Homo sapiens: one gene and its partners. The protein of the gene in region 1 purifies or fractionates together with the protein of each later gene. This does not show direct contact. Each region holds a gene or a part of one and is shown in the gene's direction. Other genes may lie near its edges. The genes, in order: DHX15, RSU1, CAPZA1, ZKSCAN4, SF3A3, TMOD3 and MCMBP.

Region 1 (4,195 bases):
ATGTAATGCGGTTGAGTGATAACCTGAAGTAATAGCTTTGTTGAGAAAGAAGTTGCTGTTGTGGTGTAAACAAAATTTTGGTTCCTTAAATATTAATTTACCTTTTTAAAGCATTGGCCATTGAAGATCAAATGATATTTCTAGTTTATTTGCTGGCTTGAAATTCCTTGTGTCAGTGAAAGTTAGTGGCTGATCTTTAACAGTCCTGTTAATTTTATTTGATATGTAATATAATTTATATACTCTATTTCTTAACAGGTAGTTGTGTCAACTAACATAGCAGAGACGTCTTTGACAATAGATGGTGTGGTGTTTGTGATTGATCCTGGATTTGCGAAACAGAAGGTACATATTTAGTGGATACTTTATAAATTAGAGTTGGTTTAACAGTACTTACAACCAATTCATTTAATGGCTAAAATTTACCTTTCAGAATTATTTTCCTATCTTTTTTTTTATTTGCAAATTTCTGCTGTATGAACCCTTTATGTTTTGGCTGGCTCTCAGAAATTAAGACAGTATTTAATATGTAATTCTAGGCTTTTTTTTCTTTTAGAGTTGCTTTGCTTTCTTTGTTTCAGTGTAGTGACGGTGGGTGTTTTGGCTTGTATATTCATTTAACAGTATGGGTTTAGTAATAAAGTACAGGATTTCTATCCCTGCAGTTCAGTCACTTCTCCCAACATTATTAGAGTTACTGCTGTCAACTAGGCACACTATTTGAAAACAGTACTATGTTACTCCTCTAGTTTAACAGTGCTGTATACTAAATGAAGTGAAATGCAGGTGAAGTGGCTATTCAATAAATACGTTTTATTTTTCAAATATCTTTTGGATAAATTGATTACATTTTGTTATTGATGGAAATTTTTTCATTAAACAGTAACAGAGTAATAGTACTCAGACCGTCGAGTTTTGAAAGTGAAGGTTTCTTTTCGGGCAGAATCCTTGACTGCCCAGCATATAAAAAGCAAGGAACAAGGTCAGCCTGATAGAACTGAAATTAGGAGGAGTAAGGATTATATAAGCTGTGTGTTTGACAAGAAGTTTTTCATGTTAGAGTCTTTCAGATGATCGAATTAGAATGTCTGAAAGAACTTTAAGGTTCAGGATGGTGGGTTGTCTATTGTAGCAGCATGATTTATGGCTATCGATATTTCTTTATTTATTTTGGAATTAACTGTGGGCTTTGGATACTTCTGTTGCATCACAATTTTGTGTTTGACTGAAGAAAGACTCTTGTGTTATTTCAATTCCAATAGGTCTACAATCCTCGAATCAGAGTTGAGTCCCTTTTGGTGACAGCTATTAGTAAAGCTTCAGCTCAGCAAAGGGCTGGTCGAGCTGGACGTACCAGACCTGGAAAATGCTTCAGACTTTACACAGAGAAAGCTTATAAAACAGAAATGCAGGTATGGGGTATTGTCGTTTCCTGCCGATATGTTTAAAATGTTAGGTTGAATTATCTTACCAGAAGAACATTGCCTTATTTACTTAATCTTGCCTTTTAGGATTAAAAGCTCCTTAGCTTTTCCAGGAGTGAAATGTATGGTGTAATTAACTTAGATAGTCGTACACCCCCTTATTCCAGGCTGATACATTCCAAGACCCTCCCCCTCCCACGCCTAAAAACTGGAATATGCTGAACCTTACTTACATATACTATGTATAAATATCTTTCTTTACAATTTCACTGATAGAAGATGCATTCTTTCTTTAGATGTGATTTTTTTGCTCTTTTGTTACTAGGTTTCAACTTTTTTTCTTTCCTTACTAACTTTCAGCGTTTCACTTAAAGGAAGCACTTCAGGGCCTCTCATTGGCATATCCAAATTGCCAGCATCAATATTCTTGGCGCTTTGGGGCCATTATTAAGTAAAAGGTTACTTGAGCACAAGCACTGTGATACTGCAAAAGTTGATCTAATAACAGATGGTTGCTAAGTGACAAATGGGTGTATAGTGTATATAGCATACTACTAAGAATGGTGCACAATTTAAACTTGATGAATTTTTTCTGGAATCTTTAAAATTTTTTCTGTTGACACTGCTTAACTGAAACCATGGAAATTGCGAGTTCAGATGAGTGAAGACTACTATACGAATTTCTTTCTGCAGTTGCGAGTTTTATGGACAGTAGCAAACACTGAATACTATAAAGATAGTTGGAGAAAAATGGTTTCTCTCTAGTCTAGCCTACAAGTATTTATCTCTACTGAGACAGTGTAGAAGTAATGCCAAAACAAATAGCTCAGGAGGCAGCAGATTTTTGTTTTCTGGAACGAGGAGACTGAGGCATTTTTAACATAACCAATAAATGTTTTTGTTCTTTGCTAGGATAACACCTATCCTGAGATTTTGCGTTCTAATTTAGGATCAGTTGTGTTACAATTGAAGAAACTTGGTATTGATGACTTGGTACATTTTGATTTTATGGATCCACCAGGTATGACTTATCAAAACACATTTTTATCAGATCTTTTAACCAAAATTGACTCTTAGTGTTTTTCTCCATCCTATTTAATATATGTATTAAATACATTTTGCTTTTTCCATCCAGTATGCATCAAGATTAAGTCTTACATGATAGCATTAAAACTAAAAAAGGTGACAGTTATATGAGCACATTTTTTTTTTTTCTTCAAAAGTTATTATGGGGGGGTTTGGGTAAATTGAATTATCCTCTGGGCATGAAAATGTGAGAATTCCTAAGTTTTCTTTGGGGAAAAACAGTTTGATAAACACATTGATGAATTAGCAATTATTTAATGTATTTCGGAAGAAGACAGTTTTGCCTACAGGAAAATTTTGCAATGTTTTTATGATTCATTGTTTGCTAGATCTGTATAATTGAATTGGATGACAGTTTGAGTTTGAGTTTGGTCCACTGCAAAATGAAAAATGAGATTGCTTATAATAGTTTGTACTTTGTCACATTTTTGCTTGCTTAAGGCACCGTGTCTAATAGATTGTCTTTTACCACTAGCTCCTGAAACTCTGATGAGAGCCCTGGAACTTTTGAATTACCTGGCTGCTTTAAATGATGATGGAGATCTGACTGAATTGGGATCCATGATGGCAGAGTTTCCTCTAGATCCACAGCTCGCAAAAATGGTTATTGCAAGTTGTGACTACAACTGTTCTAATGAGGTCCTATCTATTACTGCTATGTTGTCAGGTAATAGAGGGAAAGGAACAAAAAAAAGCCCAGCTCTTCAAAGTTTGGGTGGACTTCACTTTTGTTTTTGTTTTTTAATTTTTAGTATGATAGTGGATTTTATAGATGGTTTTAAGGAATTAATTTTGTTTTCTAAATACCTTGTAAATAGCTTCGTAATGACATAGTGCTTACAAAAGTAAAGTAAGTCATTGTGCACAAAAGATAAGTAAAGCATTGGCTCTCTTGAGTGCTAATAAAAATTGCAGTAAGTTTGAGCACAGTTGTAACTGAATTCTTTGGTTAAAGGTCCATCACTGCTATCTTTGTGGTTTTTTTGTTTTTTGTTTTTTACTGCAAGTACAGGAAGAACTTTGCTCTAGTACTTAGCTCTATTAAGTGTGCCTGTGACAAACTGAAAGCTATACATTAAGTTGAGCCTTTTCTATATATGTACTCCAATGGCACCCGAACAAACATGAATTTCAAACTTCATATCAAGTAAATAGAAATAGTAATGTATAATTTTAGGCTTAAAATCTAATCTGATAATGGTATTCTTTTACAATGGTAGAAAAACTTGGTAAAAGAAACATACCTAATATATAAAATCGCTAATTTTGTAAAATTGGACCATTAAGCTAAGGAAATAATGCTGTTTTTAGTAACAATAAAATGTAATCCACAAATGAATAGTAACTTGGAAATTAGATTTTCCCTAAAGGAGAAGAAATATTGTTAAGAAACAAATGAATAGCTATTCTTACAGCTAAAAATAGAAAATAAGTTCTTACTGACGATTAAAATATTCTCTGCTACTAGTTTTAGCACGGGAGAGAACTGACTCCCTATTGCTGAGTGGTTTATTGAACTTAATGCTGCAAATATTTCAAAATATTCTGTGGAATTAAAGGATAAATTGAAAAAAATTTAAATGTAAAATTATGGCTTAGTTTAGACGTATGGTATATTCTAATGGTGTGAATTTTTTATTTAAGAAGTAGCTAAAATGTTTTCTTGCAGAGTTATGACTGATCAG
Region 2 (4,195 bases), on another chromosome or scaffold:
TTTTTCTGATCTTGGGCATATTAGTTAATTTCCTTAAGTTTCCATTTCTTCACCTATAAAGTAATATTAGTATCTGACCTTCCAGATTGCTGGAGAATGAAATGAGGAATGATTTTAAAAGGTAATTAGTCTTTATCACTGCCATGTTAATGAGATTCATTTAGGGCTGATTCCGAGATGTGCTTATGCTCTTATACTTGAGTAACAACGGTTTGGCTTGGGTAATATTCCTGTCTTTCTCCATTCATACGCTGTCTTGATTGGTGAAAAAAGTGGTGTTGATCAGATTGGGCCCAGATCAGCCAGGACAAGGCATGATGCATACTGACATGGTCAAGATAGAATTTTAAATGGTTTTCATATTATCACTTCTCTTAATTTTGAACAAGTCATTTTTGTCTCTGCAGCAAATACCTCCTTCCCTCTGCTCTGCTTTCCTTTTCCATCTGTCTTCTTTCTTCCTTCCTTTGTTCTTAATTTCTGGGGCCAAGGTACTGTCATGACTGTGTACCTGTGATGACTTGGGTTAAGAAATTTAAAAGACATCAAATGATCCAAGAGGCACTTAGGGTTTGATTTAGGGTACTTAGGCTGTGATTACTGAGAAGGACTTCTTAGACCTGATCTGTATTGGATGAAGTGACCTTCACTTTTTTTTTCCCCCCCCCCAGGAAACTTGGATTTAACTGGCCAGAAGCAGGTATTCAAAGCAGAGAACAATCCCTGGGTGACCCCCATTGCAGACCAGTTCCAGCTTGGCGTGTCCCATGTTTTTGAGTATATCCGTTCTGAGACATACAAATAGTAAGTAGACTCTGATTTTCTGAAATAGTAGACTGTGATTTTATAGTATTTATAATTACGCCTTTAAAAATATTATGTGACAGTATCCTATTGATGGCAGTTAGCACTTAGCATTTTAAGATGTTTTATTAAAAACTGCATGTCGGCCAGGTGTGGTGTGGCTCACAGCTGTAATCCTAGCATTTGGGGAAGTCGAGACTAGAGGATTGCTTGAGCCCAGGAGTTTGAGACCAGCCTGGGCAACATAGCAAGACCCCGTCTCTACAAAAGAAAAAGAAAAAGAAATTATCCAGGCATGGTAGTGCATGCTTGTCATTGTAGCTATTCTGGAGGCTGAGTTGGGAGGATCACTTGAGCCCAGGACATTGAGGCTGCACAGAGTCGTGGTCATGCCCTGCACTCGAGCCTGGATGAGAGAGCACGACCCTTTCTCAAAAGAAAAAAACAAGAAAAAACAGCATGTGGTCATTGTCTCTATTTGTAAATTGTTTTTTATTGATATTTTCAAGGGGATTTTTACTGATTTTCTTTAGAGAATTTTTGAGGTATTAAATTAGTTGAATATTCATGGCACTAAGGAAATTCACCATTCAGATCAGAACATATTTTTTTTCTTCTGTGAATGCAAAGAATTACAAGTGTTCTGAACAAAATTGTTAAGCAGTTTATTTATAAAATCAGTAGAGAGTACTAGCAATGCGTCATTCTATTATAGAGAAGCTTGTACTGTAGTGAGATGATAATCTCTTAGAGAAAAGGGGAAGGCAGGAGAGGAAGCGGAATCTGCCAGCTTAAAGTCACAGCATCCAAATACCTCAAGTCCTCACTCCAGGTGAAAGGAGTCTATGCAAAACTGTCCCAAAAACCTCACGATTCCTGCTTCTTTCTTCCTCCATGTGTCAAGGTTGAAAGGAATTCTGCCACTTCCACGTGCTTCTGTTGTTATATGTACCGTCATTATTTTCCTACCTTATCCCAGCCCCCAGCTGCAAAACAAACTGTCATTTATCAAATACTTGCCTGACCCCAAATGCTGAGATCTAGTATAATTTTAAGCATATACAAAAAAGACAAAAACATCCCTACTCAAATGTAATCTGTTTTTGTGTCTGACATCAACTTTTAAAATTTATTTTTTAATTAATTAATTAATTTTTTTTAAGAGACAGGGTCTCACTGTATTGCTGGGCTGGAGTGCAGTGGCACAATCACGGCTCACTGCAGCCTCAAGCGCCTGGGCTGAGGCAATCCTTCCATTTCAGCCTTCCAAGTAGCTGGGACTACAGGAGCACACCACCATGCCCAGCTAATTTTTTTAATTTTTTGCAGAGACGGGGTCTCCCTTTGTTGCCCAGGCTGGTCTCAAACTCCTGGTGTCAAGCAATCCTGCTTTCATCTTCCAAAGTGCTGGGATTACAGTCATGAGCCACCATGCCCAGCCTGGCACCAACTTTTGAGAATCTAACATCCCAACTATTGGAAGAAAGCTAGAAGATTGCTAAAGGTCACATTTAGTTAAGAGTTTCTTTTCTTTTTTTTTTTTTTGGTATCAGAAATATGTCCCACACTCAAGAAAACCCTGTGAATCTGTGCCAGGCCAGTGGGTCGGGATTGATTGGCAGGGCAGAGCCTCTGCCCAGAAGTGGCTGGCTGCATTTCTGCAGTCTTGCAGCCTGAGCGCCATGCTCCTGGTCAAACATTTAGCACTTGCTGTGGCCATGTTTCCACCAGACAGAAACAGAGAAGACAAGCTGTAAAGAATAATGGCCAGCCGGAGCATGGTGGCTCACGCCTGCAACCCCAACACTTTGGGAAGGCAAGGCGGGTGGATCACTTGAGGTCAGGAGTTTGAGATCAGCCTGGCCAACATGGTGAAACTAAAAACACAAAAATTAGCTGGGCATGGTGGAGGGGCACCTGTAATCCTAGCTATTCAGGAGGCTGAGGCACAAGAATCGCTTGAGCCAGGGAGGCAGAGGTTGCAGTGAGCTGAGATCGTGCCACTGCACTCCAGCCTGGGCGACAGAGCAATATTCCATCCCAAAAAAAAGAAAAAAGAACAATGGCCTTAAAATGAAATACACTAAAATTGCCAAAATGATACCGTATCCTCCTATATAAAAGCAATGTAAAGCGTGGTTTAGATTACTTTAGACAATACTATGACACTTACAGTATAAGTCTAAAGACTTACCTTAAGGATAAAATGAGATAGGTATAGGATGTGTATTAATTGTTTCATAAGCCATATAGATATGTACAGTTATTACAGATTCAATTTTTTTTAAAAAAATACGAATGTAGCTCACCCTTAGAAATTAGTTAATTATGAAAATGTGTGAAAATATAGTCACAAATTAGCAGATGATTGTTTATCTTCTTCTTTGTAAATTGTTAATCATTGCTATCGTGAGTTTTAGATGGGGCTCTAATTTTTTCTTAGTAAACAGGAAGCTATTTAGAGCTTGGTTTGTATGGTATCTTGAAAAAAGTCATTCTGTATATGATAGTATACAGAAAAATGCATGAACAAACTCCTAGCCATCTGGAATTAGAGGAAATTCTCTGTTTATTATTCTGGTTAACAATTTTTAGTTTTCCATAGATCACTTTATAATTTATAGAGGATGAGAATACATTGCATATGAAAGTGCTTTTAATTTTAAAAGATTAAATTGTGAGTTTCTGGATTTTGTATTACCTCAAAGTAATTATTAGGCAATTAATCACCATTCTGCACTGTTACAGACTATTTTAACTGATTTGAATGTGGTTAGGATTCTGGATAAATGAGAGGTATCTATAACATAATTGGTATATCTGTTTTTATGTCTGTTATTAGCATCCTATTTTGGGGGGTTGGCGTAGTCTAAGCAATGTGTCTGCTAACTTTTTCTGTTTCATTTCCTCATGGAGCCTTGGATTACCTTTTATGCAGTTAAGTCAACATTAAAAAGTTTCAGTAGGCTGGGTGCGGTGGCTCACGCCTATGATCCCAGCACTTTGGGGTGAATTGTGGGGTGATTCACCATGAGGAGGGTGAATCACTTGAGGCCAGGAGTTCAAGACCAGCCTTTCCAACATGGTGAAACCCCATTTCTACTCAAAATACAAAAATTAGCCGAGTGTGGTGGTGGGTGCCTGTAATCCCAGCTACTTGGGAGGCTGAGGCAGGAGAATCGCTTGAACCTGAGAGGTGGAGGTTGCAGTGAGTTGAGATAGATGGCGCCACTGCACTCCAGCCTGGGTGACATAGTGAAACTGTGTTTCAAACAAAAAAAAAAAAAAAAAAAAAAAAAAGAAGCAGCAGCTTCAGTAAGCACCGGAGAGCCATTGCCTCCTTTCCACGGGGACCAGCTGGTTCCATAACAGCTGCTTTTAGGGGCATCTA
Region 3 (4,195 bases), on another chromosome or scaffold:
GCTGGCGTACAGTGGCATGATCTCAGCTCACTGCAACCTCCGCCTCTCAGGTTCAAGCGATTTTCCTGCCTCAGCCTCTCTAGTAGTTGGGATTACAGGTGCCCACCACCACACCTGGCTAATTTTTGTATTTTTAGTAGAGATGGGGTTTCACCATGTTGGCCGGGCTGGTCTTGAACTCCTGACCTCAGGTAATCCCCCTGCCACAGCCTCTCAAAGTGCTGGGGTTACAGGCTTGAGCCATTGCACCCAGCCCCCTAATTATTCTTACTCTATACTAAGTTCTTTTTTTCCCCTACCTTTGTAAATGTAGGCATTCCCCCAAAGTTCATAATTCATTTAATGCAGGTAAAGTAACACAGACTTCGGTGTCACAAAAACAGTGGGTTTGGATTCTACCTTTACCACTTCCTGAGTGACCTTAGGCAAGAAGCTTTGTGAACTTCAACTTCTTATCTGTAGATAACACTGTATTTCATCAGATTTATTAGAGGAAAAAGAAAATACATGTAAGAACATATTTTGTGGACTATAAAGCGCTATTTTTTTTTTCTTACTTTCCCTTGGTGATTGCATTTCCATTCACCTCTCCCACACTAAAGAAGAGTTAGTGTTTCTAACTACTAACTAGACATCTCCATCTGTAATTTCCAGTTTGTTAATGACACCACCATCTTTTTAGTCACTCTTGAGTTCCTTCTTTCCTTTGCCCATCATTTGCAATATACTGCTAGACTTTGATTGTACTTCTACATTCTGTGTGCAACTCTTCCTTTCCATTCCCATTAATATAACTCTGACTTGTTGCCTAGATTAATCCTGTGGCCTCCTAACCAAGCTTCAGCTTTTCTTCGTTTTATCTTGAATACCAGTATTGATTATTCTCCCACAATATTAGTTCTAGTCATGTTTTGCTGTCTCTCCATTGCCTATAGAATAAAATCTTAAACTTCTTACTTTACATCTACTATTACATGACCTAAATCTACCATCCTGTTTTGTCTTTCATTAGTCCACTTCACACACACCCTTTAAACCTGACAGTCTTGTTCACTGAACAAGTCCTTAGTTTCCTGTCTTGCCTTTATTTTCAGTCTCTGCTTATCAGAATCTCATCTGTCTTGTATGACCCAGCCTAAATGGCACCCGCCTTGTACCCCAAACCAAGAGCAGTATTTCCCTCTGTTTTCATTGTATCACTGTCTCTGGTAGAACCTAACATGTTCTGCTTTGTTTTCATATCCCATGTGCACTATTGTGTTCTAAGCTCATTTTATGTGATTCTTTGTCTCCCCCAAGGATTTAACACTCTGCTTTTGTACAATGCATGTTGTTTAAATTAAAAGTGTTTGGAGTCTTTAACTATTTTTTTTTCCCAACAATAGGTTTATGCTAAAACTATCGATGGGCAACAGACTATTATTGCATGTATTGAAAGCCACCAGTTTCAGCCTAAAAACTTCTGGTAAGAAGTAGATATTCTCTTCTATTTACATCTGAAAGAAACCAGCAGTTGAGACTTGGTTTTTAATCCAACTAGCTTGGAATAATTATTTAACTTACAGACTTCAGTTTTCCATCTATAAATGAGGGATTTAGATTCCTTACAGTTCTAAGGTTTTATAATTATATTTTCCTTTAAAAGTTACTCTTATTTTGAGTGAGAACAAGTGATTAGTAAAGTGCCCTGTTGAAAATCTGAGTTTTACTTGGCTTAGGGTTACTGCTACTTGAGTTAATTGTGTAACTCAGCAGCCTATTCATCTGATTTTGGAAGAGCCTCCCATGAGCAGAATAGGCATGGTTTTCCATTTCAAGGGAAAAAAGGAAAAATGAAAGACAAAATAACTTAGAAAAGGCTTATGGTCAGGCCACTTAGATCCAGACTTACATTTGAGTAGACAGAGCTTTGGGTTTGCCAAACTGGAAATGACAGTTTCTCTCTCTCTCTTTTTTTTTTTCTTTTTTTGCACCCCTCTTTCCCAACTTCTGTACCTCAGTGGCAAATCACCTCTTTCTTGTGCTTATTGCTAATTCTGCAATGTTGTGTGTGTGTTTTAATAGGAATGGTCGTTGGAGATCAGAGTGGAAGTTCACCATCACACCACCTACAGCCCAGGTGGTTGGCGTGCTTAAGATTCAGGTGAGATTCCAACATGTTTATAGACTTAAAACTTCACATCTTTAAAACATGTGCAGGTTGCTTTGGTATTAAATAAGGACCAAGTATGTGTAGATGCAAAGGGAGACTGATGGCAGTGAATAGAAATAGAAGCCTCCTTCTTGGGGTGGTAAACAGAGAGAGCTATTCTGAGTTGATAAAGGATAGCATGTAGAGTGTATGGCAACATGGTTATTGTTATTTTTCCTTCAATGGTAACATAAGATATAACTAGGAATTATCAAACAGCAGTTTTAGGAAAGATTTAAAATTAATAATAATAATAATTATTATTTTTTGGGACAGAGTTTCACTCCATCACCCAGACTGGAGTGCAGTGACGTGATCTCAGCTAACTGCAACCTCCACCTCCCAGCCCAGGCTGGGTTAATTCCTAAAAATTATAACTAGAGAGAATGGCAGGTGTTTTGGAATATAAATAGCCAAGCAGAAGTAGATTGATTGATTGATTGATTGATTGACTGATTGATTGATTTTTGAGATGGAGTTTTGCTCTTATTGCCCAGGCTGGAGGTGCAATGGCATGATCTCGGCTCTTCGCAATCTCTGGCTCCTGGGTTCAGGTGATTCTCCTGCCTCGGCCTCCCGAGTAGCTGGGATTACAGGCATGCGCCATCACGCCTAGCTAATTTTCTATTTTTAGTACAGGCGGGGTTTCTCCATGTTGGTTAGGCTGGTCTCGATCTCCTGACCTCAGGTGATCCACCCGCCTCGGCCTCCCAAAATGCTGGGATTACAGGCGTGAGCCACTGCACCTGGCCCAGAAGTAGATTTTTAATGCTGATGTCAGGGTAGACAGGCAGCTGAATAAGATAGCTGTTAACTCATTTGATGCCTGTCTGGATTGAAGTTTAATATCCTAGCAGAGGTTTGACTTTCTAAACTCAGGGTGATTTAATATTTAAGCCTCACTAACTGTAAGGTCAGAATAGGTACAGGTAACCGAGAAGATCAGTACCTAATCGTACCTGTATTATATTATGTGAAGCTGTGCTTTAACAACAATTACCAAGAGTTGTCTTTTTTTTTTTTTTTTTTTTTTTTTGAGAAGGAGGAGAAGGAGGAGTCTCGCTCTGTCGCCCAGCCTGGAGTGCAGTGGTGCAATCTTGGCTCACTGCAACCTCTGCCTCCTGAGTTCAAGCAATTCTCTTGCCTCAGCCTCCCAAGTAGCTGGGATTACAGGCACACACCACCACGCCCAGCTAATTTTTGTATTTTTAGTAGAGGTGGGATTTCACTATGTTGGCCAGGCTGGTCTTGAACTCCTGACCTCAGGTGAGCCACTGTGCCCAGCCAAGAGTTGTCTTTTTTAATGCTCTAATTTAATCAAGTGCATAGGTAATAAATTCTGTAAAAGTAAATCTGCTCTTTTTATATATACCTATAGCTTCCTGCAACAAGTAGCTCCTGGCCATAGGAGCATGCCCAACTCAGGTGAGACAGGCTGGTGTTGAGTTCACAGCTCTAGGAGGAGCCCTCAGTGATATGTAAGAGTTGGTAGATAAATATGGCAGCTTCCTCAAGTAGGACAACTTTCAAGCACATTCTGTTTAGTCTTCCGGAGCCCAATACCCACAGCTGTAACCTGCTCATAAACGTACCTCTAAGGCTTCCTTCCCTTCTGTGTCCCACTTCTTCTGTCCCCTACTGTAGCTTTGTGAGATTCGCTCCTGAATAAACTACTTTTTCTCTAATCTTTGTCTTGGGGTCTCCTTCTGGGAAGGTGCAACCTAAGACAGCATACTGTTCTGTTTCTGTTAACAAAATATCTTAGTAGCCTAGCGCTCTAGATCTCTTGTAACTGTGGCATTAGCATTAACTTCCTAGAACCATGGTATCAGCATTGTAGAAGCTTATTGTAAATTTTGTGTAAATAAATTTTACTTTGTTTCTAGATGGAAACAGCCATTTGTATTTTAGCTCTGCCAGTGCAAACCTATAAAATAAGAGCACACATCACAAAGGGTGATAATTTATGGTAAGATTCAAAATACAGCCCAGTGTACAGACCCA
Region 4 (4,195 bases), on another chromosome or scaffold:
ATATATAGACTTCTGTAATTCTTGTCTCCCTAGTACTCATCACAGAGCTTTCCTCCCATGGCAGGGCATAACCCACAGTTGCCGGCCATTTGTTGTTTCAGGTGGTGAAATACAGACTAAGAGCAGGGACTTGCCTCCAGTCAAGAAGCTTCCAGAAAAGGAGCATGGGAAGATATGCCACCTGAGGGAAGACATTGCCCAGATTCCTACACATGCAGAAGCTGGTGAACAGGAGGGCAGGTTACAAAGAAAGCAGAAAAATGCCATAGGGAGTAGGCGACATTATTGCCATGAATGTGGAAAGAGTTTTGCTCAAAGTTCAGGCCTGACTAAACACAGGAGAATCCACACTGGTGAGAAACCCTATGAATGTGAAGACTGTGGAAAGACCTTCATTGGGAGCTCTGCCCTTGTCATTCATCAGAGAGTCCACACTGGTGAGAAGCCATATGAGTGTGAAGAATGTGGTAAGGTCTTCAGTCACAGCTCAAACCTTATCAAACACCAGAGAACCCACACTGGGGAGAAGCCCTATGAGTGTGATGACTGTGGGAAGACCTTCAGCCAGAGCTGCAGCCTCCTTGAACATCACAAAATTCATACTGGGGAGAAGCCATACCAGTGCAATATGTGTGGCAAAGCCTTTAGGCGGAATTCACATCTCCTGAGACATCAGAGGATTCATGGTGATAAAAATGTTCAGAATCCTGAGCACGGGGAGTCCTGGGAAAGTCAGGGTAGGACGGAAAGCCAGTGGGAAAATACTGAGGCTCCCGTGTCTTATAAATGTAATGAGTGTGAGAGAAGTTTCACACGGAATAGAAGTCTTATTGAACATCAGAAAATCCACACTGGTGAGAAACCCTATCAGTGTGACACATGTGGAAAAGGTTTCACTCGAACTTCATACCTTGTTCAACATCAGAGAAGCCATGTAGGGAAAAAAACTCTTTCACAGTGACCCATGGTATTCATGCCAACATTGGTGCTCATTTGTCACTGAACTGAAGCCACCCTGGAGCCCTTAATGGTTACAGAAATTGTGGACCAGGGCTTTATTTACCACTATACATCATCGGGTATTAGAAAATGTAGTCTGGCTGAGACGATGAGTTATCTTCTACATTCTAGAAAGTGATTGGAAGAAGTCATTTGATAAGAGGCCATGGGAGAGTGGTCTGGAAGTTGTAGGACCTAAAATAGTTTGTTCTCACCCAGTGTATTTAAATGGCCTTCTGGACTTGTTAATTGCCCTCAGCCAGCACTTTAGGACATCTGGTTGGATGGCTCTGATGTGGGGGGCTGCTGCTCTGACCATTCATTTTGCCTCTAATGAATCTTTCACAAATTGGTCAGATCCATGAGGTCTTTTACTCTTCTTTGTGCCTTGTATGATAGGTGCTAATAAACATTTATTAAATGTACCAGTAAAATGGCCTTTGTACCAAAAATTTGATGTTGTCTATATTTCTGAGAAATTTCTAACTTATGCCATTTGAATTTATGTATTATTCTCTGAGGTTCTAGATTCTGGGCCAATCTAGTGTATTTGTTGCCACGTACATACTGTTTTCAGAATTGGGGTGGGGGAATCCATATTTCTCTACCATGATAGTAGAGATGAGAAGAATGCCTTAAACAGCTTCTTTATCATTAAGACACTGTGAGATTGCTCCATCCATAGAACTCCACTGTCTGGTCAATGTTAATTATGTTAGTTTACATTAATTTTGCTACTCTTTAGGGGGAGTCTTTCACATTCAGGTAAATAAAAATCAACTTACTGAGTTAGATCAAAATGATTATTATGAATTTTGAACACATTCTGTAACACTTACCATCTTGTTTCTTACCTTTTAGTTATCTTGGGCCGACCAAGTGCTAAGACGTCATCTGTGTCCCTCTTCCCCAGTTTATAGCTGACTGTGCATCAAGGCTTATGCCAGCTAAGCTTAAACTTTCTCCAGGTCCGAAGATTCATAACAAATATTTATAATTATTATTCATGGTTTCAAAACTGCCCTGTCAGTTGGGGACAGGAAGATCAGGTTAGAGGCAGCCTATGAGGATAGAAACTCACATCTGAGTGGTAGGAGAAAATGTATCTGTTCAGGCTGGGTGCCATGGCTTACACCTGTAATCCCAGCAATTTGGGAGGCTGTGGCAGGCAGATCACATGAAGTCAGAAGTTTGAGACCAGCCTGGCCAACACGGTGAAACCCCATCTCTACAAAAAATACAAAAATTAGCCAGGCATGGTGACACACGCCTGTAATCCCTGCTACTTGGGAGGCTGAGGTAGGAGAGTTGCTTGAAACTGGGAGGTGGAGGTTGCAGTGAGCCGAGATGGTGCCACTGCAGTCCAGCCTGGGTTTCAGAGTGAGACTCTGTCTCAAAAAGAAAAAAAAAAAAGAAAAGAAAATGTGTCTGTTCAGAAGCACATTGGGAATCCTAGGTATCTGATGAAAAAGATTGTACAATATCCAAAGTGTTGATATGTGATGTCAAGGCTCAATGCTGTGAGTTATTCACAAGAAATAAGAATTTTTTGATATCTTCTGCTTTCACCCAAATCACCTGCGATGCTTAAAGACTGATTTCTTCCGAAGTGCTCAAGTGCCTATTACCATCTTCCAGCATTGCCAGACTGTCATGAATGGATTCTGCTTCTGATGAAATCCCTGACCATGTTTTATTCAGTCACCAGCATCGTGTTCTTGTCTATCCTCAAATACCCTTTCTGGATTTCTCCTCTGAAATACCACAGGCTGACCAGAGACTTACAAAACCGTAGAGCTCTCCCTTTATTAATTCCCTACAATCTTTTATTGCCTTCATTATCTCCTTTTCAGTCTAATTTAAAACTTCTTTAGAATTCCAAAGTTCTGTAGACTTTCTCTGCTCAATCTTTTCTAGCCTTTTCAAATTTCTTTAAAATCAGCTTTATTTATGTTATTTCCACAAAGCTAGCCATTTCCTTTTCTCCTTTTTCACTTCTCCTAAATATTTGCTAAATAGCTCTGATTTTACACACTCAAACTCATTACAGACAACTCTGTTAACTTTTCTGTGATATTTGTTTCTGATGTTACATGAAGAGATATATGTGAAAGCCTTTTACAAACCAGAAAGCATTATACAAATATAACTTCCTGAGATTAACTAAGGACCACTGTGCCTCCTTTCACTCCTGCGCCTCCAAGCCTAAAAGTCTTCTCTGTAGAGGAGGGAAATATTGTAGAAAAGTACTTTTCAGTGTCTGCTATGCTAGAAAAGGGAAGAAATAAAGCCTCTATTTGTGTGTGTGTGTGTGTGTGTGTATACACACTTAGGCTTAGGTCTTTAGTACAGTCAGGTTGGTAAGACTTGCACACAAATAAGGCAGTGTAATGATAAATGCCTTATGAGTGGTAAACTGAGGCTTGTAGAAATTCAGAGAAGGAAAAGGATGCTTCCAGCTGTGCAAGCTGTTATTATATGGACAGGGTGACATGTTAGAAAGCTGAATGGACTCACAACAACTTTGTCCAATTGAGTAAATAAAGCAAATTTTAAGAGATAGGGACATTGTAGGGGCCTTCAGTGCCAGAGCAAAAAGTTTAAATTTTATTCAGTAAGCACTGGGGAGCCATGATATTTTATAATCAAAATATTATCTAGGAAACTTTATCTGGTGTATTATATAATATCAAATAAAATCATTTTGCTTACAGTCTTTTAGATACTCCACTTTTCTATAAAACAGTGGTATGTGTTTATAAATAGCTGAATTATAAAATGAGTTTATCTGTAGCCTATTGAAAGGATGGCCAAAAAAGTTATTTTCCAATGAAATTAGATCTAGTAAAGTAAACTACTTAGTTGAGATATAAGCAGTATATAAAGCACAATAAAATGCCACTTTTCATATTTTCTTAAATTGCTTTTAGGAATTTTAGTGGTGACTAGTCTGCCATTCTATTTCATTTCTGTAACTGAAGCAGCGCAGAAATCTTCTATTTTCTTTTTTCTCCCTTTGCTTGAATAGTAAATGGTTATAGCACTTTTTCTACTTCGATAGAATGAATGGTTATAATGAAAAAAGCTTTTGATGAATGGCACTCTTGGATTTGTTCTTAATTTTGGCAAAGACGTATATAATTCTGCAAAAGACTTTCTCTGCCTCTTCCTTTAGTGAGAGAAAAAAAAAGGTAGG
Region 5 (4,195 bases), on another chromosome or scaffold:
TTATCTTGAGCTTCCACTTTAGGGCATTAGGTATCAATTCCTTGGTATCACTTGTGACAATGAGGTATTCCCTGCCAAGTATGCTATGTTTTTTTTTTTTGGAGACGGAGTTTCGCTTTTGTTGCCCAGGCTGGAGTACAATGGCGGGATCTCGGCTCACCTCAACCTCCGCTTCCCGGGTTCAAGCAGTTCTCCTGCCTCAGCCTCCCGAGTAACTGGGATTACAGGCACGCGCCTCCACACCCGGCTAATTTTGTGTTTTTAGTGGGGACAGGGTTTCTCCATATTTGTCAGGCTGGTCTCAAATTCCCGACCTCAGGTGATCCGCCCACCTCGGCCTCCCAAAGTGCTGGGATTACAGGTGTGAGCCACCGCACCTGGCCGTATGTGAGTTTTTTTGAGTGTACTTTGGAGCAAGACTGCCAGGGTCCACTTGCCTTTGACTGTGCCCAGATTTTCACCAATCACATCATTACTGCTATGTGGTTCCTGCCAACCAAGAGCTTATCAGATCATATGTTAGGAATCTACATTCTCACTTCTAGGGATAAACATGAGTTTTTCCTGAACTCTCCAGGGAGAGAATGTGGACAAACCTTAGCTTCATCCTAAACCTGGTGGGGTTTTTTTGTTTTTTGTTTTGTTTTGTTTTGTTTTGTTTTTTGGGAGACAAAGTCTCCATCTGGCTTCTAGGCTGAAGTACAGTGGCATGATCATACCTCACTGCTGCAGCCTCAACCTTGTGGGCTCAAGAGATCTTCCCACCTTAGACTCCTGAGTAGCTGGGACCACAGGCACATGCCATCATGCCCAGCTAATTCAGATAATTTTTTGTAGAGACAAGATTTCACCATGTTTCCCTGCCTGGTCTCTAACTCCTGAACTCAAGCAATTCACCTATCTTGGCCTCCCAAAATGCTGAGATTACAGGTGTGAGCCACCACACCTGGCCTAAACCTGGATCTTAATAAATACCATATTGTTCTTTCCAGAAAGAGACAAGCAGTGCCCTGACCCATGCTGGAGCCCATCTTGACCTCTCTGCATTCTCCTCCTGGGAGGTATGTTTCCTTCAGCAGTAGTAGTGTTCTCTCTGTCTATTTTTCTGTCTTTAAAGACTGCTCTCCTGTCTTTAATACCATGGTTGTGTTGTGATAAGGCACTATTTCTTGAGATCAAGCATCTACAAAGAAAGTAGCAAGGCAAAAAGAAAAAAATTACTACTTGGGAAACTGAAATAATTATTCTAACTACATTAAGCCGTAGTAAAGTAAATGGAACACTATCAGTATGGTTAAGTCTGAAGATAACTATAGATTCAGTCCTCTGGAGAGTTTAGACTTACTGCTAGATTGGCTGTGAAATGTGTGGTCCTGCCACAGCCTCAGGAACACCCACCCTCTGGCCTGCATTTGGGGTTTCCCAAAAATCTGTTAATGTAATATTGTAATTTTTCTCTTCTTTGTATAGGAGTTGGCTTCTCTGGGTTTGGACAGATTGAAATCTGCTCTCTTAGCTTTAGGCTTGAAATGTGGCGGGTAAGGAATAGTTTTTCTATCAAAACTATCGATTTACTGTGTGTTTGCACAGTCTTCTAAGTAGCTCTGATTCCATTTTTTTTGTTGCTCCACACTGCAAAAATAAGCCAGCCTGTGTGGTAAAGTAACCCTAAAATCCTTTGCCGTCCTGTCTCCTTAGGACCCTAGAAGAGCGAGCCCAGAGACTATTCAGTACCAAAGGAAAGTCCCTGGAGTCACTTGATACCTCTTTGTTTGCCAAAAATCCCAAGTCAAAGGGCACCAAGCGGTGAGTGGCTGGGGTAGCACTGCTGCTTGTGGCTTTTAAATGTTATTCCCATGCAGAATTTTTAACCACAGTGGAGACTTTAAAGCCTGCTTTATCTCCGTTATTGGTTGACAGAGATCCAGTCTGCTCTTTATCTCTGCTAATAGCAGAGAGTACTATCACTGTTAATATAAACCAAGGACCGTCTGTATTCATCTGATTGAGAGCACATCAAGTTTCTAAATTTGAAACCATATTCATGGCACCTTTAATAGGTTATGGAGGCTAAAAGGCTAAATAGGTTCAAAACCTATTTTTCTAAGCTTATTTTTGGTAAAGTTGAATCTAATTCTTGAGCTACATACTTATACAAGGTATTTTCTTTTTTCTTTTTTTTTTTTTTTGAGACAGTCTCACTCTGTTGCCCAAGCTGGAGTGCAGTGGTGCAATCTCAGCTCACTGGAACGTCCACCTCCTGGGTTCAAAAGATTTTCCTGCCTCAGCCTCCTGAGTAGCTGGGACTACAGGCACGCACCACCACACATGGCTGATTTTTTGTATTTTTAGTAGAGATGGGGTTTCATCATGTTAGCCAGGCTGGTCTGCAACTCCTGAGCTTAAGTGATCCACCTGCCTTGGCCTCCCAAAGTGCTGCGATTATAGGCGCGAGCCACCGTGCCCGACCCAGGGTTGTTTTTTTTGTTTGTTTGTTTTTTTCTTTTTTGAGATGGAATCTCGCTCTGTTGCCCAGGCTGGAGTGCAGTGGCACAATCTCGGCTCACTGCAAACTCCGCCTTCTGGGTTCAAGTGATTCTGCTGCCTCAGCCTCCCGAGTAGCTGGGATTACAGATGTGCAACACCACATTGGCTAATTTTTGTGTGTTTTTTGTTTGTTTGTTTTTGAGACGGAGTCTTCCTCTGTCACCCAGGCTCAAGTGCAGTGGCGCAATCTCGGCTCGCTGCAACCTCCACCGCCCTGCTTGAAGCGATTTTCCTGCCTCACTCTCCCGAGTAGCTGAGATTACCAGAGTGCGCCACCATGCCTGGCTAGTTTTTGTATTTTTAGTAGAGACGGGGTTTCACCATGTTGGCCAGGCTGGTCATGAACTCCTGACCTCAGGTGATCCACCTGCCTCAGCCTCCCACAGTGGTGGGATTACAGGCATGTGAGCCACCGTGCCCAGCTAATTTTTGTATTTTTAGTAGAGAGAGGGTTTCACCATGTTGGCGAGGTTGGTCACAAACTCCCAACCTCAAGTGATCGCCAGCCTCAGCCTCCCAAAATGCTGGGATTACAGGCATGAGCCACCGAGCCTGGCCCAGTATTTTCTTAATGTACGTTTTTTTCTAATTCTCACAACAACCCAGAAAATTAGTTGTTATCCTGAGTTTTTGCAGATAAGGACTCAGAAAAGTTATGGAATGTGTCCACTCTCTCATAGTTCTAAGTAGCAGAGTCAGGATTTGGGCCTAGGTCTACCTGCTGCAGAGCTTGCTCTTATATACCACATTTCCTTTGTAGATTATAATGATGGAAATGTAAGCGGTCTTGATGTGTCCTTCATCTTCTAAGTGAGGTCATAGAGGAAGCCTCCATGCATTCTGAGAAATACCCTCAGTATTTGTCAGAGAGTCCTGAGATGAACAGAGCATTTGCTTTCATAGCATCGTATTTCTCATGTGCTTATAATTTTTAATGCAGTTGTGCAATAAATGTTCCCAGATATAGGGAACAAAACAATGGATGAGAGAATCCTTGAGTGAAACAGCTTGTTTCTTTTTCTCAGAGACACTGAAAGGAACAAAGACATTGCTTTTCTAGAAGCCCAGATCTATGAATATGTAGAGATTCTCGGGGTAAGTGACTGACTGCTGAAAGTGGAAAATGGTATAAAGCACAGGAGTTAAAGGGAGAGGAACTCACAGAAGATACTTTTTCATTAGGTTCAAAAGAGGAGTGGATAGCTGATAAACTAGTATGGCACAAAATAGAGGTCAGGGTACAAGGCTCTTCAGTAAGTTCCTATTCTGTTGTTAGATGATACTCCCAAAGTTGCCCAATTCCCATAAAGCCAGTCATGGAGAATAGAGTCCCCTCACAATATAATGTCCAGAATAGTGCAGATTCTGTGCCTGAGCTTTAGAAAATACTCAGGAGTAGCCCACAAAGCAGACACTCAAAGGGCAAGTAACAGAAAGGCTACTCAAAGTGGCCTTTCAGTTATGACTTATGAAAAGGCATTTTCATAAGTCATCTCATGTAAGTCAACTTACATGTTCATAAGATTATGAGAAACTTAGTAGGGCTAGAATATTATTAGTACAAAGCTGGCAGTGAATGTTCTTGAATATTTCAGGAGGAGCTGAAGTGTGGGTTGGGGTAGAGAAAGGCCTAGCCTGACCAGTATGC
Region 6 (4,195 bases), on another chromosome or scaffold:
TCTCCCTTAGGTAGATCACCCTTGTTAGTAAAGACAAAGATTAGAGATGGAGAAAAGACAACTGGGGACTTACCAGTGAGGAGTCTTGAATCCTAAAGCTTAACTAAAATAGAAGCAGAAAAAAGCTAAGATTTTCAAAGACAGGATTACCTTTCTGTGGAAATGCAGGACAACTTTGGTTTCCTTATTCATTCCTTCCCCCTTTCTCTAACATATAACAGCTTTAGTGAGATATAATTCGCACACCATACAATTCACCCATTTAAAGTGTACAGTTCAGTGGATTTTGCTACATTCAGAACTGTAGAACCATCACCACCATTTTAGAACATTTTCATCACACCAGAAATAAACCCCTTACCATTAGCAGTTACTACCTAATTCCTCCCAATTCCCCCCTGGTCTCCCCCACCCAGCCCTAGGCAACCACTAATCTACTCTCTCTTAAGATTTGCCTCTTCTGGACATCTCATATAAATGGAATCATATAATATGTCATATTTTGTGCCTGGCTTCTTTCACCCTTATACTACTCTTAAGAATTCGTTTTCACGCCTATAATCCCAGCACCTTGGGAGGCTGAGGCGGGTGGATCACGAGGTCAGGAGATCGAGACCATCCTGGCCAACATGGTGAAACCCCGTCTCTACTAAAAATACAAAAATTAGCCAGGCATGTTGGCACACACCTGTAGTCCCAGCTACCCGGGAGGCTGAGGCAGGAGAATCGCTTGAACCTGGGAGGTGGAGGTTGCAGTGAGCCGAGATCATGTCACTGCACTCCAGCCTGGTGACAGAGTGATGCTCCGTCTCAAAAAAAAAAAAAGAAAAAAGAAAAAAGAAAAATACTGAAATACAGTCAAGGTTCCTCCTGAGATGTGCACCCTTTTTGAGCTATAAAGATATCCACTGCCTCGGGTATATATGTTCAACACCTGCACCCACTCACTAAGGAAGGAACACAAACACACTAAGACAAACTTACAAACTAAGGTAACATATACAGTGATGATAACCCCCTACAAATAAACAGTTTCATATCTGGGCATAACTAAGCATGAACATCATGATAAGTACATACAAGTGAACACAGTTCCTGAAGTGTCTGTGAGAAAGTGAATAAAAACATGGTAAACTAGAAGAAAATGAGGGCTGGGTTTGATATATATATATATAGACTTGTAGGTAAGAAGATTGTTGTATTTCCTTAACCATAGCATAGCAATTCTTTTGAGCAGGATATTATTAGTGATACTTATACAGTAGGGGATTTCCATCCATGTGGAAAATTACAGCCAACAAAATATTTTCATTCCCTGGGTGTGGTGGTAAAACTTTGATGAGGAGTTAAGGAATATTCAGAAGAAGCCCCTCAAATGTATATGAGTCTGGCTTATATTCAGGCAGCCCTTACCCTGAGGCAAACGTGACAAGATATGATACAACCCCCAAGATTTATTTTCATTCATGGTGGGCTATAATTAACCCAGGTTAATACTCTTAGGGAACTATTCTTTTTTTTTTTTTTCCTCTTTAATGTGCCCACTTGAGTGCTAGACCAGCTGAGGAGTTGGGGGTCTAATTTCACTGGAAATAGCAATAAATATGTGATGATTTCAAAGTCATGCCCACCCCACTTTTGTTTTTCTCCTGTTGTCCCTAAGATTTACAGTTTCTTGGTGAAAAATTACAGAACCCTACACAGAAATGGACCAAGGCAGATGTGTAGGATTTCACCTCTGCAAGGCCTTCGGGGCAGGTGGGCTCTTCTGTTAGTCCTCAGCACACCCTCTGTGCTTGCCTTTCCTCTGCCACTTTTCTTGAACCCCCATTATTATTCCTTGTCAAGTCATCTCACTTCCTGCTTTCCTTAGACATTGGCCAGCATTCCAAGTGATATAGTGTGCCCTCCACCAGAGAATAGCTGGCACTGCTTTAAGCCCCTTAGCCTTCCCTCCTACCTCAGAAGAAACTGTTTCCTCTTTTCTTCTCCCACTGCCTGAATCTGGTATAGCACACAAGGGGAGCCTCTGCAGAAATGTTACTTGAACTGGTCCCTGAAAGATGTGAAAGGATTTGAACATGAGAAAGAGTGCAAAAGGACATTTCCTGTGTAATGAACCGTGTGATGTAAGGGCTGCAGGCGGAAGAGCATGGAGGCGTACTTACTTCTGTGTAACACAGGGTGTGTGAAGATCGCTCCTTTCCCTTTACTTTTCTTCTTCTTGCCCTGGATTCCCTCCCAGCTCCAACCTTTTTCAGCCTGTGCTTTGATCTCTTTGTTTAGTATATACTTCTCCACTCCTCTCTGTGTAGCTAATTCTGTCCCTCCCTGACCACCCACAGTGATCTCTGAATTTCTGTACACTAATAGCCAGTACCATTCTTTTGGCAGTTAATTATATATTTTCTTGAAAAAAACAAAAAGCACTTTATGTGCATGTCTCATTTTCCCAAATAGAGTATGTTAGTCAAGGTGTTTAGGTCTCCGGGAACACAAACCCACTTAAGCTATCTTGCTAGATGGTATGGTGGCAGAGCTGGGAGTTGTACTGCATTACTATTGTAAGGCTGCTGAGGTCCGTGAAATGACCTACCACTGGTACCCAGAGCAGACACTTTGAAAGTCTCTGTCCTCTCTCTGCTTGTAGGGCTCTCTTTGGCTTCTTTCTGTGCCTCTGCTCCATTTTAGGACATTAATTTTAATTTTTAAAAAATAGTATGCATTACTGTGTAATTTATCTTGATTGCTGAGCTTTTTTGCACCCTATTAAATACTGAGACACCCTGAGGCAGGTGCCTCCTTTACTTTTTCCCTGTAGCCCCAGCCCTGCTTCATTCTCTTCCCTGCAGACTGACCTTCTGTGCTTTCCCCTTAGCTTCAGCTTCAAGGTGACTAGCTTGTTATGGTAGTGCCTCCAGACTTGGTGATACCTTATGTCTCAACTTGAGTTTTGTCTCCCAGCTTTCCAGATTTCTGGAGAAGAATTGAATTTGATCCGTCCTGGTTAGATTGAGAGTGGTGACCCCTGTACCAAACAGCTGTGAAAGATGTGGCTTTGTTATGTTGTTTCTTTGGCTGTATATTTCACAGGGACTGGAATAAGGGGTGGGTCCCCCCACACAAGGAGGTTTGGGGTTGTTCATCTCAAAACATGCTTATTTTGATGTCAGAAGGAAGTGACCATGCCTTCTCTTTTTTGGTATGTTCCCTGCATCTGGCAGATTGACAGCTAAGAAATAGGTGTATCTCTCTTTTTTTTTTTTTCCATTTTGTTTGAGACTGGGTCTCACTCTGTTGCCTAGGCTGGAGTGCAGGTGTGATCATAGGTCCCTGCAACCTCCGCCTCCCAGGCTCAAGCAATCCTCCCACCTTAGCTGCCCAAGTAGCTGGAACTAAAGGCACGTGCCACCATGCCTGGCTAATTTTTTGTAATTTTTATAGAGATGGGGTCTCTTTATGTTACCCAGGCTAGTCTCAAACTCCTGGGCTCAAGCAGTCCTCCTGCCTTGGCCTCCCAAATTGCTGGGATTACAGAGGTGAGCCACCACACTCAGTCTTCTCTTATTTGGTGTCTATTTATTCCTATGACTTGCCATTTGACCATTAGGATTAACTTTTAGGTATAATAGTCAATTCAGAGCAATTTTTTTTTTCGAGACAGGCTTTCGCTGTCATCCAGGCTGGCGTGCAGGTGTGATCATAGCTCACTGCAGCCTTGAACTCCTGAGCTCAAACAATCCTCCTGCCTCAGTCTCCCAAGTAGCTGGGACTACAATTTGTACACCACCACACCTGGCTAATTTTTCTAGTGAGCAATATTTTTAATACTTAAAATGAATTACTAAAATTTGTGTTATCATTTGGAAATTTTCTAATTTTATAGCAGATTAAATATTTTTTAAACATTTCTTTTTGGAATTTGTTTCTCAGTTCAGAAAGAATAGGGGAGTAGAATATTGATAATCAAAGAGTGACAATACAGTACAACTTTACTGACTCCGCTCCCAGCCCCATTAGGATATGATAAAACCAAGTTCTCACATCATTGACCTCAATGCTTACTGAGTCCCCTTATATTACTTTATTTTATGTTAATTTAGTGTCTACCATGTTGCAGGCACTATATTAGGGGCTGATAATGTAAAAATAGGTCCTTGCCCTCAAAGTGCTCACAATCTATGGTGGAAATAGA
Region 7 (4,195 bases), on another chromosome or scaffold:
ACATGGTTTTTATCTGTCCAGTGTTAACTGTTATACCAAATCACAGACAAATTCCTTTTCTCACAGTTCACATTTAGCATTTTGATTATGTCCCCTTAAATTTTAGAGCCAAAATCAGATAAAGCAGTGGTCCCCAACCTTTTAGGCACCAAGGACCCATTTCATGGAAGACCATTTTTCCATGGACCGGAGTGGGGATGGTTTCAGTATGAAACCGTTCCACCTCAGAACATCAGGCATTAGTTAGATTCTCATAGGGAACACACAGATGTGCAGTTCACAATAGGGTTCGCGCTCCTGTGAGAGTCTGATGCCACTGCTGATCTGACAGGAGGCGGAACTCAGGCGGTAATGCCCACTCATCCACCCCTCACCTCCTATGTTGTGGCCCGGTTCCTAACAGGCCATGAACCAGTACTGGTCCACGGCCTGGGCGTTGGGGACCCCTGAGATAAAGGACCTGGCTGATGAGTAAAATGAGCTGTTTTATCCCTTTTGCATTCTGAACGCTCTGTTTATACATCCCAAGGCGCCCACGTCATGTGCACGTTTAACGTGGACATTGACACTAGCACCGCATCCCTTGACTCCACTGTATTTCTTTGTTTCTCATTTTAAAACTAGTGTGGGCCTTTGACAAGTTCCAAGAACATAAGGAGGAAAATGCACATCATCTGTAATTTCACCACTTAGAACCTCCGTTAACCTTTAGGTACATGTTCATTGGTTTTTGTTTACATATGTATACATCCTTGCATAGGTCTTAGTTACACTCTAAGCACAGATGCGTGTCTTGTTTTCAGCAGTTGATATATATTAAACATTTTCCCATCATAATGCTTCATGAACTTTGTAGTGGCTGCAAAGTATTTCACTATGCAGTTGTACCATACTGTAACCATTTCCCTAAATGTTAGCTTTTCCTAGCTTTTCTCTATTATAAAGTTGCAGGAAACATCTTTGTGCTGTAAATCTTATCTTTTCTCAAATCAGTCTGTGACAGTAGTACATAATGGTTGAGAGCACAGGCTCTGGAACCAAACTACCCGGATTCATATCCCAGCTCTGTCAGCTTCCATTTAGATGAACATGTTGCTTATTATCATCTCTGTGCCTCGGATTTCTCATCTGTGAAGCAAAGACAACAGCACCTACCGCTGAATGGTTAGGGGTTAAATGAGGAAGCATTTACATACTCAGAACGGTCTTTGGCACGTGACCAGCAGCACTTACGTACAAATATTGGCTATTACTTTTATTGCTGTTATTCTGATAAAATAACTGGTCAGAATATTCTGGTTTATTTTTAATGACAATATTAAGCTAATTTTTCTATTCTTCGCTATTTGATAGAAATCAGGAAGTCACTTCAGCATCTTATTGATTGATTTCTTTCTTTTCTAGATATACAAGAAGAGATGTCCTTCCACTAGGAAAATTTACAGTTAACTTGAGTGGTTGCCCACGGAATAGTACCTTCACAGAACACTTGTATCGAATTATTCAACATCTTGTTCCAGCAGTAAGATGAATATAAATATGTATTATAAACCTAAGCACACTTAAAAAATCCATCTAACTGTCTTTCATTCACTTCAAATATTTAACTTAGAGATTTTAATAGATCTTATTTAAGGGGAAACAAAGCCTGCCAAATTACATAATTTAAAATGTACGTTCCCCTAAACATTTCACTTTTTTTTGTCTTTTTGCCTAAGCACAAATTTCTGTAAGTCTAACAAAACAATTGTAGTAACTCCCTTAAAATTACACTCTCTTGATACCAATTTGTCCAATTTGGTATCCTTTTTGTACACTAAAGTCTTAAATCTAAATAAACTCTAAATTGTAGGAGCATAATTCTTTTAGTTGAGGTAATAAAGTTCTTTATCTCCATTGCCTCAATTTTAATTCCTGTTTGGAAAGTTGAGCTCACTTTATTTGCCAGGGTATCTGGAATGCAGTATTTGCGTGGTGGTAGGATCTTGGGAACAGGGGAATTGCTTCTGATTAGTTGTGTGACTGAAAATACTGATCACTTCTTTGGAAATTGAAGAGGGTGCACTAGATCTTTATTGAACCGAATGTATTCAGTGTCTCAGTGCTAACACTCGTCCAGGCCCTCAAGAAGCAGAAGTGGACTGGAATATACCAGCAGTTCTCAGTCTCCTTAGACTCACTTTACACTCTGAAAAATGTGTTCATACTCAAAGAGCTGTTTTTCACGTTATGATTATATTTATCATTAATTTACCAAACTAGAAGATAAAGTAAATACACCTATTAAAAATAAAAAATTACATATAAATATTTTTATAAAAACAACTTTTCCCAAGCCAAAAATGATTAGTGATAAAGGTGACATTGTTTTACATTCTTGCAAATCTCTTCAATGTCTGGATTAATAGGAGACAATGGATGCTTGTATCTGCTTCTGCCTTCAGTCTATTGTAGTCTCAGGTTTTGGTTGAAGTATATGAAGGAAAGCTGGCCTCACACAGATGGAAAAGTAGATGGTAAAGGAAGGATGGTTTCGATAGCCTTTGCAGATAACTGGGTGGTGGTCTTTGATACTAGACCAAAACTGTCCACATGAGATTTTCTTAAAGATAGTTAAGTGTGGAATCTGAAATCCTATTCGTAAACTTTCCATAGTCTGCTATGGTAAAATTCATTAGTCTCGCACATTGAAAGGATCTTTTATCCATGCATGATTTTGACCTGATTGACCCTGTAAAAGGGTTTAAGCAATTCCCTGGGGGTTCTCGGGACCACATTTTGAGAATTATTGAAACAGATCCTTTGCCCTCACAGAGTTTAGGTAGAAGACCAACAAATAAATTAATACATGGTAGGTCATTTAAGCACCCCTAAGCTCCCCGTTTTCTTAGAATCACTGAGGTAATACACAAAACTCCTCTAAATTTTCGCAATATATCTTACCTCTTCCTTGACAGCCTTCCCCCACCATACCCTCTTCTCCATCCCTGCCACATTGTTTGAGGCTGGAGGGATGGAAGAATGGATTGGTGTATAAGGCAGAGCACAGAGGGTGTTGGGAATGGTGGCTCAAGAGCTGGAGGAGGAGCATAGATGGTTCGCTTACTCGTTAAACACTGAGTGAGAAGGTGCTCGCGTCCTGGAGGCACCTCCTGAGAGCTGCAGGTCCATCCACAGCTCAGTGTGCTCTGCTCCTTGATTTTTCTCTGAAAAGTTTGTTCAAAAATGTCTATGATAAATGAATACAATTTTAACTCAAAGAATATAGAGGAAAATTAAGCTTTTCTCTCCCTGTCTTGAAGAGTAAAATTAACATTTTCTTTTTGCTAGCTAGCTTGTGTTAGGTGAAAGAGGTTAGGTTTTGGGGTATTTAATATTTATATGTCAGTTATCTACCATTTGTTTCATTGGTTAAATTAAAATTGATTTTCAAGAATATTGAACAAGACATTTGAGAATAAAGTAGCTCATAAAATGGATGAAATTCAAATGTAAGATCTAGATACTATTTTTGCTTCTGGAGTTCAAGAAACCATATCACTACTCCCTTAGAAATTTATAAGATCACTTTTTCCATATGAAACACAATGTTTAATTCCAAGTACATATTTTCTTAAAACAGGGAAACTTAAATTCTTGTTCACTAAAAAATTTCTCTTTGCAGTCTTTTCGTCTGCAGATGACTATAGAGAACATGAACCATTTGAAATTCATTCCCCACAAAGACTACACAGCCAATCGCTTGGTCAGTGGGCTCCTCCAGCTGCCCAGCAATACTTCCCTTGTAATCGATGAGACTCTCCTGGAACAGGGGCAGCTGGATACCCCAGGTACGTACATAGATGTTTCTCTTCCATTTCTGACTTCCTTCGCACTAAAGCCAGATCTAGGAATAACTTTTAGAAGAGTATCTATGGACAAATTCACATTTAACAACGTAAGATAAAGGCTTGGCATATGAATTTGATTAAAGCATATGTTATAAACTAATTATATACACCAACTATGTTTTGCCATAGTATTCTGAAAGTAGTACAATGGAACAGATATATATCTTATATAATATATCTTATATAATATATATCATATATAATATATAATGTCTCATTTAATATATATCATATATTATATATTTTATATATTATATAATGGAGCAATAATATAAAGGGTAGTATTAGTATAATGGAGCAGTAAT

The links.
Region 2: the proteins of DHX15 (region 1) and RSU1 fractionate together in Homo sapiens (co-fractionation; one large-scale study listed by BioGRID). This does not show direct contact.
Region 3: the proteins of DHX15 (region 1) and CAPZA1 fractionate together in Homo sapiens (co-fractionation; one large-scale study listed by BioGRID). This does not show direct contact.
Region 4: the proteins of DHX15 (region 1) and ZKSCAN4 purify together in Homo sapiens (co-immunoprecipitation; one large-scale study listed by IntAct). This does not show direct contact.
Region 5: the proteins of DHX15 (region 1) and SF3A3 fractionate together in Homo sapiens (co-fractionation; 3 studies listed by BioGRID and IntAct, with this or other methods). This does not show direct contact.
Region 6: the proteins of DHX15 (region 1) and TMOD3 fractionate together in Homo sapiens (co-fractionation; one large-scale study listed by BioGRID). This does not show direct contact.
Region 7: the proteins of DHX15 (region 1) and MCMBP fractionate together in Homo sapiens (co-fractionation; one large-scale study listed by BioGRID). This does not show direct contact.

Annotation. Positions count from the first base shown.
Region 1 is NC_000004.12:24,539,090-24,543,284, reverse strand, and holds part of DHX15 (ATP-dependent RNA helicase DHX15), read left to right. Parts: intron 1-258; coding exon 259-345; intron 346-1,262; coding exon 1,263-1,412; intron 1,413-2,336; coding exon 2,337-2,445; intron 2,446-2,985; coding exon 2,986-3,177; intron 3,178-4,195.
Region 2 is NC_000010.11:16,691,632-16,695,826, reverse strand, and holds part of RSU1 (ras suppressor protein 1), read left to right. Parts: intron 1-671; coding exon 672-804; intron 805-4,195. UniProt on the Homo sapiens protein: Potentially plays a role in the Ras signal transduction pathway. Capable of suppressing v-Ras transformation in vitro.
Region 3 is NC_000001.11:112,657,637-112,661,831, forward strand, and holds part of CAPZA1 (F-actin-capping protein subunit alpha-1), read left to right. Parts: intron 1-1,385; coding exon 1,386-1,465; intron 1,466-2,064; coding exon 2,065-2,143; intron 2,144-3,569; coding exon of another isoform or gene 3,570-3,599; exon of another isoform or gene 3,600-3,616; intron 3,617-4,195. UniProt on the Homo sapiens protein: F-actin-capping proteins bind in a Ca(2+)-independent manner to the fast growing ends of actin filaments (barbed end) thereby blocking the exchange of subunits at these ends.
Region 4 is NC_000006.12:28,241,882-28,246,076, reverse strand, and holds part of ZKSCAN4 (zinc finger protein with KRAB and SCAN domains 4), read left to right. Parts: intron 1-101; coding exon 102-961; 3' UTR 962-4,195. UniProt on the Homo sapiens protein: May be involved in the transcriptional activation of MDM2 and EP300 genes.
Region 5 is NC_000001.11:37,976,331-37,980,525, reverse strand, and holds part of SF3A3 (splicing factor 3A subunit 3), read left to right. Parts: intron 1-992; coding exon 993-1,061; intron 1,062-1,470; coding exon 1,471-1,538; intron 1,539-1,698; coding exon 1,699-1,806; intron 1,807-3,572; coding exon 3,573-3,642; intron 3,643-4,195. UniProt on the Homo sapiens protein: Component of the 17S U2 SnRNP complex of the spliceosome, a large ribonucleoprotein complex that removes introns from transcribed pre-mRNAs.
Region 6 is NC_000015.10:51,835,912-51,840,106, forward strand, and holds part of TMOD3 (tropomodulin-3), read left to right. Parts: intron 1-4,195. UniProt on the Homo sapiens protein: Blocks the elongation and depolymerization of the actin filaments at the pointed end. The Tmod/TM complex contributes to the formation of the short actin protofilament, which in turn defines the geometry of the membrane skeleton.
Region 7 is NC_000010.11:119,838,170-119,842,364, reverse strand, and holds part of MCMBP (mini-chromosome maintenance complex-binding protein), read left to right. Parts: intron 1-1,404; coding exon 1,405-1,522; intron 1,523-3,664; coding exon 3,665-3,830; intron 3,831-4,195. UniProt on the Homo sapiens protein: Associated component of the MCM complex that acts as a regulator of DNA replication.